Linked DNA regions of Homo sapiens. The protein of the gene in region 1 purifies or fractionates together with the protein of each later gene. This does not show direct contact. Each region holds a gene or a part of one and is shown in the gene's direction. Other genes may lie near its edges. The genes, in order: DYNC1I1 and C15orf39.

What was found.
Region 2: the proteins of DYNC1I1 (region 1) and C15orf39 purify together in Homo sapiens (affinity purification with mass spectrometry; one large-scale study listed by BioGRID and IntAct). This does not show direct contact.

What each region holds. Positions count from the first base shown.
Region 1 is NC_000007.14:96,038,004-96,041,821, forward strand, and holds part of DYNC1I1 (cytoplasmic dynein 1 intermediate chain 1), read left to right. Parts: intron 1-1,273; coding exon 1,274-1,418; intron 1,419-3,818. UniProt on the Homo sapiens protein: Acts as one of several non-catalytic accessory components of the cytoplasmic dynein 1 complex that are thought to be involved in linking dynein to cargos and to adapter proteins that regulate dynein function.
Region 2 is NC_000015.10:75,204,727-75,208,544, forward strand, and holds part of C15orf39 (uncharacterized protein C15orf39), read left to right. Parts: intron 1-1,272; 5' UTR 1,273-1,322; coding exon 1,323-3,818.

The sequences.
Region 1 (3,818 bases):
CCTTTCAGGATGCTGTTAAGAGCAAGTGGAGTCTCACCAGGGGCCACTTCAAAGATCAGTTCCTCGGGTTCATTAGAACAAATTTAAATGATCATGTGTGGAACTGCTCTTAGCAGTTTCACTGGGCATAATTTTTGAGTGCCTGTTACATGGAACACGCACTGCCACACTTTGCTCATGATTCCAAATTTTGCTAAGCACATTGACATTTATTGGTGCTCCAGAGGCCCAAATGTTTTAATAACTGAGCTCGTTTTTATTCTTAGTGACATAATATTAGGATTCTACAATTCCTACATATTTGTCATATTTATAACCTCATGCACATGAATATTTTAAATATAGCATTTTTGGTATGTTTTCTCACATCTTCCTAATTGTATATGATTGCATGCAGAATACTATGTGATAATAGAGGGCTGCAAATAATAACAGCTTAGTTAAATAAGCAAGATATGTCTGTGTGTAATTTTTTAAATGTCTATCATTATTTCTCAAATGTGCTTCTGTTTTAAAAAAGGACTGAGACATAAGTTTGTCTCTTTTTCTTAGCTAGTTTATTCAACAAATATTTATTGAGCACTTACTATATGCCAGACACTTGGCAACAAGAAAGACAAGATACTTGCCCGTATGGGATTTACAGTGGATATGTAAATCTGTCTTCTGTTTTCAGTAAAGAGAAAACATTATTTTCTCCATATTATATTTAAATTATGTGCATTATTTTGTGGTGACAAGGGTTTCCACAAAGTGTTACATTTTCAGCTATGTTAAAGTAATTTAAGAAATTTACTTGAAAAAAATAAATGATTGTTCCTTCAAGGATGGATGGAGTTTTATAGTCAATAGGTTCCCCAAAAGGAGATAAAGCAGACCATGTGCAAAATGCTATCTCAAGAATAAAATAGTCTTATAAATATAAAAGCTTCAGAGACCTAAGTGTATTTGTTTCCATTAAAATAGCTGCATCAGCAATGATAGGCTTTGAGGAATTCTGCAAAAAGAATTAAATAATAAATATTGATATTAAATTCTGTATTTTAAAAAGATTTCATTGCCCTACATTGTTTTTAAATAATGAAAAATAGGGTAACATATTTGCAAACAATTTCTTTCAGGATAACTGTAAAAATGATTTCATTTTGGTGGTGTGTGGTTGTTCTAAATTATGGAGATGCAGAGTTGAGGGTTTTTTGTTTTGTTTTGTTTTTAAGCAATCATTGCTTTTCAGAGGTCACTGGAATTCTGCTCATGTGTGCTCTTCCTACAGCAAAGCAGGTATTGGTGAGGTCTTTGAAGGTCACCAAGGGCCAGTGACAGGAATTAACTGCCACATGGCAGTGGGCCCAATCGACTTTTCTCACCTGTTTGTCACATCATCATTTGACTGGACTGTCAAACTGTGGACCACCAAGGTAAGAATATCTTGACTGAAATTCTCAGATAATACATAAGGGCAGAGGATGGTTTTTCATTCCCTGGAAACAGTTGTCCCTAAAGCCTCTTCCAGGCAACCTGGCATTGGGAATTCATATACCTTCTGGTGAGCTCAGTCTACCTCAGAGCTAGTTAAGTCCATTTTATTTACTTTTACACATATAGGTAATACTTGAAAATATTCTAACTATAAAAAATTCAAACAATTCAAATAATGATAAAGCTGCAGTCCTCCTCTACCTACCCCAACCCCAACCCCATCCACAACACCCCCTTCACTGCCTGCACCTCAGTCCCCTCCCCAGGGGTAAACTTTTATCAGTTTCATGTCTATGTTCTGGAGCTTGGTGGTATCTACTTACTTACATATGTACCTATGGAAATATATGATTTGGGACTTGGGTTTTTTTTTGTTTGGTTCGTTGATTGGTTGTTTATTTTTATTTTGAGCTATTGGAAGTTTTTAAGCTGGTAAATGGCCCTATGTTATGTTTTTAAAGGTAATTCTGGCTGGGAGCTGTGGCTCACATCTGTAATCCCAGCACTTTGGGAGGCCGAGGTGGGTGGATCGCTTGAGGTCAGGAGTTTGAGACCAGCCTGGCCAACATGGTGAAGCCCCATTTCTACTAAAAATAGAAAAATTAGCTACATATGGTGGTACATGCCTGTAGTCCCAGCTACTCTCGAGGCTGAGGCAGGAGAATCACTTGAACCTGTCAGGCAGAGGTTGCAGTGAGCCGAGATTGGGCCACTGCATTCCAGCCTGGGTGACAGAGCCAGACTCCATCTCAAAATTAAAATAAAATAAAATAAAATAAAATAGTAAAATAAAATATAATTCTCTCCATGCTTGAGAGCAAGAAGAAAAGCTGAGACCACTTGGAAGGAAGGCACAATAATCTAGGAAAGAAATGACAGTGACTTAAACCAGTAGTCTGAGATGGAGAGAAATAAATGCATTTGAGAACCATTTAAGAGATAAAAGCCACAGAAACTGGTGATTGATTTGATAGAAGGAAGGTAGGAGAGGGAGTCATCAGCAGATAACCCAGGTTTAAGACCTGGGCAGCTGGTGAGTGTAGCACTCACTGCACTGGAGAACAGCAGGGGAAGGACATGCTGGGGCAGAGCTTTGCATATGTTGAGCTAAAGGTGCCCGGGAGAGGCATTTCAAGATCTCCATTAAGCAGTTTGATATGTGAGTCAGAAGAAGAGAGAGCCCTCCAAACAGAACGTATGCACTAGAATAGCAGTGATCTTCACAAATGAGTAGTTTTTTTTTTTTTTCTTTTTTTTGAAACATAGTCTCGCTCTGTCACCCAGGCTGGAGTGCAATGGCACTATCTTGGCTCACGGCAGCCTCTGCCTCCCAGGTGCAAGTGATTCTCCTGCCTCAACCTCCCTAGCAGCTGGGATTCCACAGCACACACCACCATGCCCACCTAATTTTTGTATTTTTAGTAGAGATGGGGTTTCGCATGTTGGCCAGGCTGGTCTTGAACTCCCAACCTCAAATGATCTGCCCGCCTTGTCCTGCCAAAGTGCTGGGATTACAGGCATGAGCCACCACACCTGGCCCAGCAGTGGATTTTAAAAGAAACACTAACATGCAATCTGGAGGGAGAGCAATACTTAGGAAATAAATAGAAATTGAACTAGAAAAGGGAGATGAAAAAGTAACCCAGGAAATAGAAGACAAATTAGAATTTTCTTTGCAGCTTCATGGGTATTAATGGAAAAAACCATGTTAAGAGGACAGAATTTGCTTTTAACTATATGAAAAGATAACAACCTCATTTATAAGAGAAATTAAAATTAAAACCAAGTTGAGAAACATATTTCCAACTATCAGATTGACAAAAATCTAAGTTTTGCAACATACTCTGTGATGAGGCCGAAAGAAACCAGCTGTTCTCATACATTTCCATTGGAAATGCAAAATGGCTCAACACTGTGGAAGAGGATTTAGCAATATCTAAAAATAATACATGTTTTAACAGAACAATTTCCACTTCTAGGAATCTATGCCAAAGATATACCAGCAAAAATAAGACAGAAGACATATGGAGAAGGACATTCACTGAAAGATTATTTGAATAGCAAAAGAATGAATACAACTCAAAAATCTCTATCAGTACAGTGCTGTGTGAATCAAAAGTATGGTACCTCCACCCAAGAGAGTAACATTATTCAGGTATAAGAAAAAATGAAGAAGACTTCTATGTTCTATTATGGAGTGATCCCTAAGATACATTTTTAAATGAGTAAAGCAAAGTGGAGAGAAGTGCAAATAGTATATTATCATTGTTTATAATTATATAATTAGAAGTTGAAAGGATAAACAAAAAAGTTACTTATAGCAAGACAGGAAGCTAAAA
Region 2 (3,818 bases), on another chromosome or scaffold:
CTTGAACTCCTGACCTCAAATGATCCGCACACCTCGGCTTCCCAAAGTGCTGGGATTACAGGTGTGAGCCACAGCACCTAGCCACCTCCCTGGACTTTCACACACGCCCCTGACGCTGTCTTGGCCCCACCCTGCCATGTGCCTAGGAATCGCCATCTGCAGCTTGGGGGCTGGGGGTGGATCCAGGCTCCTCATGCTCTGGGACCTTCCTGCTGGTGCTGCAGCACCATCTGCTGGGCTGCCCTGACTCCTGCGGAGGGGGAGGAGTGGGGCGAGAGGGGTGTGGCTTGTACAGACTGATGTCCCCAGTTACCTCTCCTAGGGGACTGCTCTCCAGAGCCAAGTCCAGTATCTCAGCATTGGCTTTGGGCCTAGGGACCTGGGCTGGAGGCCCGACTCTGCCATTTTTGACAAGATCAGCAGGTCAGAGGAGTGTCACAAGAAATCTGTGAATTTGTAGACAATACTCAGATTCCATGTTTTGGCTGCAGTGGGCATCACTGTGGCATCTTGGAATAGGACCCTGTGGTGGGAGGCAGGAGGCCTGCTTCTCGTTGTGTCTATTTCATTGGTGACTTTGGGATGAATGGGTCTCCTCATCTGTATATGAGGGGGTGGCGGCAGGGTATGTCAAGTGACCCTGAGACCCAGTGCCCCTACAAATTCTGAAATCCCAAGAAGGAGGGGATCTTGGGAGTTGTATGGAGGAAAATCGAACAGAAGGGGCTCCTGGAGTGGGGATGGGTGGGGGTTCTGTGTAGAATAATTCATTAAACAAAGGGTTCTGCAGCTTAAAATATACGAGTTGGGGTCAGGAGCAGTAGGTGGTTCATGCCTGTGATTTCAGCATTTTGGGAGGCCAAGATGGGAGGATCACATGAGTCCAGGAGTTCAAGACCAGCCTGGGTAACATAGTAAGACCCTGTTTCTACATAAAATACTAAAATGAGCCGGGTGTGGTAGCAGGCACCTGTGGTCCCAGCAACCTGGGAGTTGGGAGAATCACTTGAGCCCAGGAGGTTGAGACTGCGGTGAGCCAAGTTCATGTCATTGCACTCCAGCCCGGGCAACAGAGTGAGACCCTGCCTCAAAAAATACATACACGAGTTGGAAACCTCTGTCACGTGGCTCATGCACTCACAGTCTTAACTGAGCATCATTTAAGCGCCAGGTTCTTAGGTGTAGCCGTGAGCTGATGAGAGCAGCAGCCCTCTGTTGCTTTGCCTGTAGCCTGTTTTCCTGACAGCCCCTGCCTTTCTCTCTCTATCCCAGGTCAGAAGTTGAGTAGCAGGGGCCTAGGAGGGCTCGAAGCCTTCACAGCGATGGCAGAGAAGCGACCCCTGAGAACCCTGGGGCCTGTGATGTATGGCAAGCTGCCCCGCTTAGAGACAGACTCCGGGCTCGAGCACAGCCTGCCCCACTCTGTTGGTAACCAGGATCCCTGCACCTACAAGGGGTCCTACTTCTCCTGCCCCATGGCAGGTACTCCTAAGGCCGAGTCTGAGCAGTTGGCGTCCTGGACCCCATACCCACCCTTGTACTCTACCGGTATGGCAGGACCCCCACTTCAGGCAGACAACCTGCTGACCAACTGCCTGTTCTACCGCTCGCCAGCAGAAGGCCCTGAGAAGATGCAGGACTCCAGCCCTGTTGAGCTCCTGCCCTTCAGTCCCCAGGCTCACTCCTACCCAGGCCCACCACTGGCAGCACCCAAACCTGTCTACCGCAACCCTCTGTGCTATGGGCTCTCAACTTGTCTGGGGGAAGGAGCAGTGAAGAGGCCACTGGATGTTGACTGGACTCTGGCGACTGGGCCCCTGTTGCCCTCAGCTGACCCACCCTGCTCTCTGGCCCCAGCTCCTAGCAAGGGCCAGACTCTGGATGGCACCTTCTTGCGGGGGGTGCCAGCTGAGGGGTCCAGTAAAGACTCCTCAGGGAGCTTCTCCCCATGCCAGCCCTTCCTGGAGAAATATCAGACCATCCACAGCACGGGCTTCCTGGCCTCCAGGTACACAGGTCCTTACCCTAGGAACTCCAAGCAAGCAATGTCTGAGGGGCCCTCAAGTCCTTGGACCCAGCTGGCCCAGCCCCTGGGGCCACCCTGTCAGGACACCGGGCCCACCCACTACCCACCACCCCACCACCCACCACCCCACCCTCCACAGGCCCTGCCTTGCCCTCCAGCCTGTCGCCACCCAGAGAAGCAGGGCAGCTACAGCCCAGCACTCCCACTGCAGCCTCTGGGGGGCCACAAGGGGACCGGGTACCAGGCTGGTGGGCTGGGCAGCCCCTACCTGAGGCAGCAGGCAGCCCAGGCACCTTACATTCCCCCACTGGGGCTGGACGCTTACCCCTACCCCTCTGCCCCTCTCCCAGCACCCTCTCCAGGCCTCAAGCTGGAGCCGCCTCTCACTCCACGGTGCCCATTGGACTTTGCCCCCCAGACACTGAGTTTTCCTTATGCCCGGGATGACCTCTCTCTCTATGGAGCATCCCCTGGGCTTGGAGGGACACCACCTTCCCAGAACAATGTGCGGGCTGTGCCACAGCCTGGTGCCTTCCAGAGGGCATGCCAGCCTTTGCCAGCGAGCCAGCCCTGCTCAGAGCCTGTGAGGCCTGCACAGGAAGCCGAAGAGAAGACCTGGCTGCCCAGCTGCAGGAAAGAGAAGCTCCAGCCCCGGCTCAGTGAGCACTCTGGGCCGCCCATCGTCATCCGAGACAGTCCAGTTCCCTGTACCCCCCCAGCACTGCCCCCCTGTGCCCGGGAGTGCCAGTCTCTTCCACAGAAGGAGGGCGCAAGGCCACCCAGCTCTCCACCAATGCCTGTCATTGACAATGTCTTCAGCCTGGCCCCCTACCGTGACTATCTGGATGTGCCGGCACCCGAGGCCACAACTGAGCCTGACTCTGCCACAGCTGAGCCTGACTCAGCCCCAGCCACCAGTGAAGGTCAGGACAAAGGCTGCAGGGGGACCCTGCCTGCCCAGGAGGGCCCCTCAGGGAGTAAACCCCTAAGGGGCTCACTTAAGGAGGAGGTAGCCCTGGATTTGAGTGTGAGGAAGCCCACAGCAGAGGCCTCCCCTGTCAAGGCTTCCCGTTCTGTGGAGCATGCCAAGCCTACTGCAGCCATGGATGTGCCAGATGTGGGCAACATGGTGTCAGATCTGCCAGGCCTGAAAAAGATAGACACAGAAGCACCAGGCTTGCCTGGGGTGCCAGTGACCACAGATGCCATGCCAAGGACCAACTTCCACAGCTCTGTGGCCTTCATGTTCCGAAAGTTCAAGATCCTCCGTCCGGCACCTTTGCCTGCAGCCGTGGTCCCGTCCACGCCCACCTCAGCTCCTGCTCCCACACAGCCTGCACCCACCCCCACATCTGGGCCCATTGGACTGCGGATTCTCGCTCAACAGCCCTTGTCTGTGACCTGCTTCAGCCTGGCACTGCCCAGCCCTCCAGCCGTAGCTGTGGCCTCCCCTGCCCCTGCTCCAGCTCCATCCCCTGCTCCGGCTCGAGCTCAGGCTCCAGCTTCAGCCCGGGATCCAGCTCCAGCTCCAGCTCCAGTTGCAGGCCCTGCTCCAGCATCTACTTCAGCCCCAGGGGACTCCCTGGAGCAGCATTTTACAGGACTACATGCGTCCCTGTGTGATGCTATTTCTGGCTCCGTCGCCCACTCTCCTCCAGAGAAGCTTCGCGAGTGGCTAGAGACGGCTGGGCCCTGGGGCCAGGCTGCGTGGCAGGACTGCCAGGGTGTGCAGGGGCTGCTGGCCAAGCTGCTGTCTCAGCTGCAGCGCTTCGATCGCACCCACCGGTGCCCC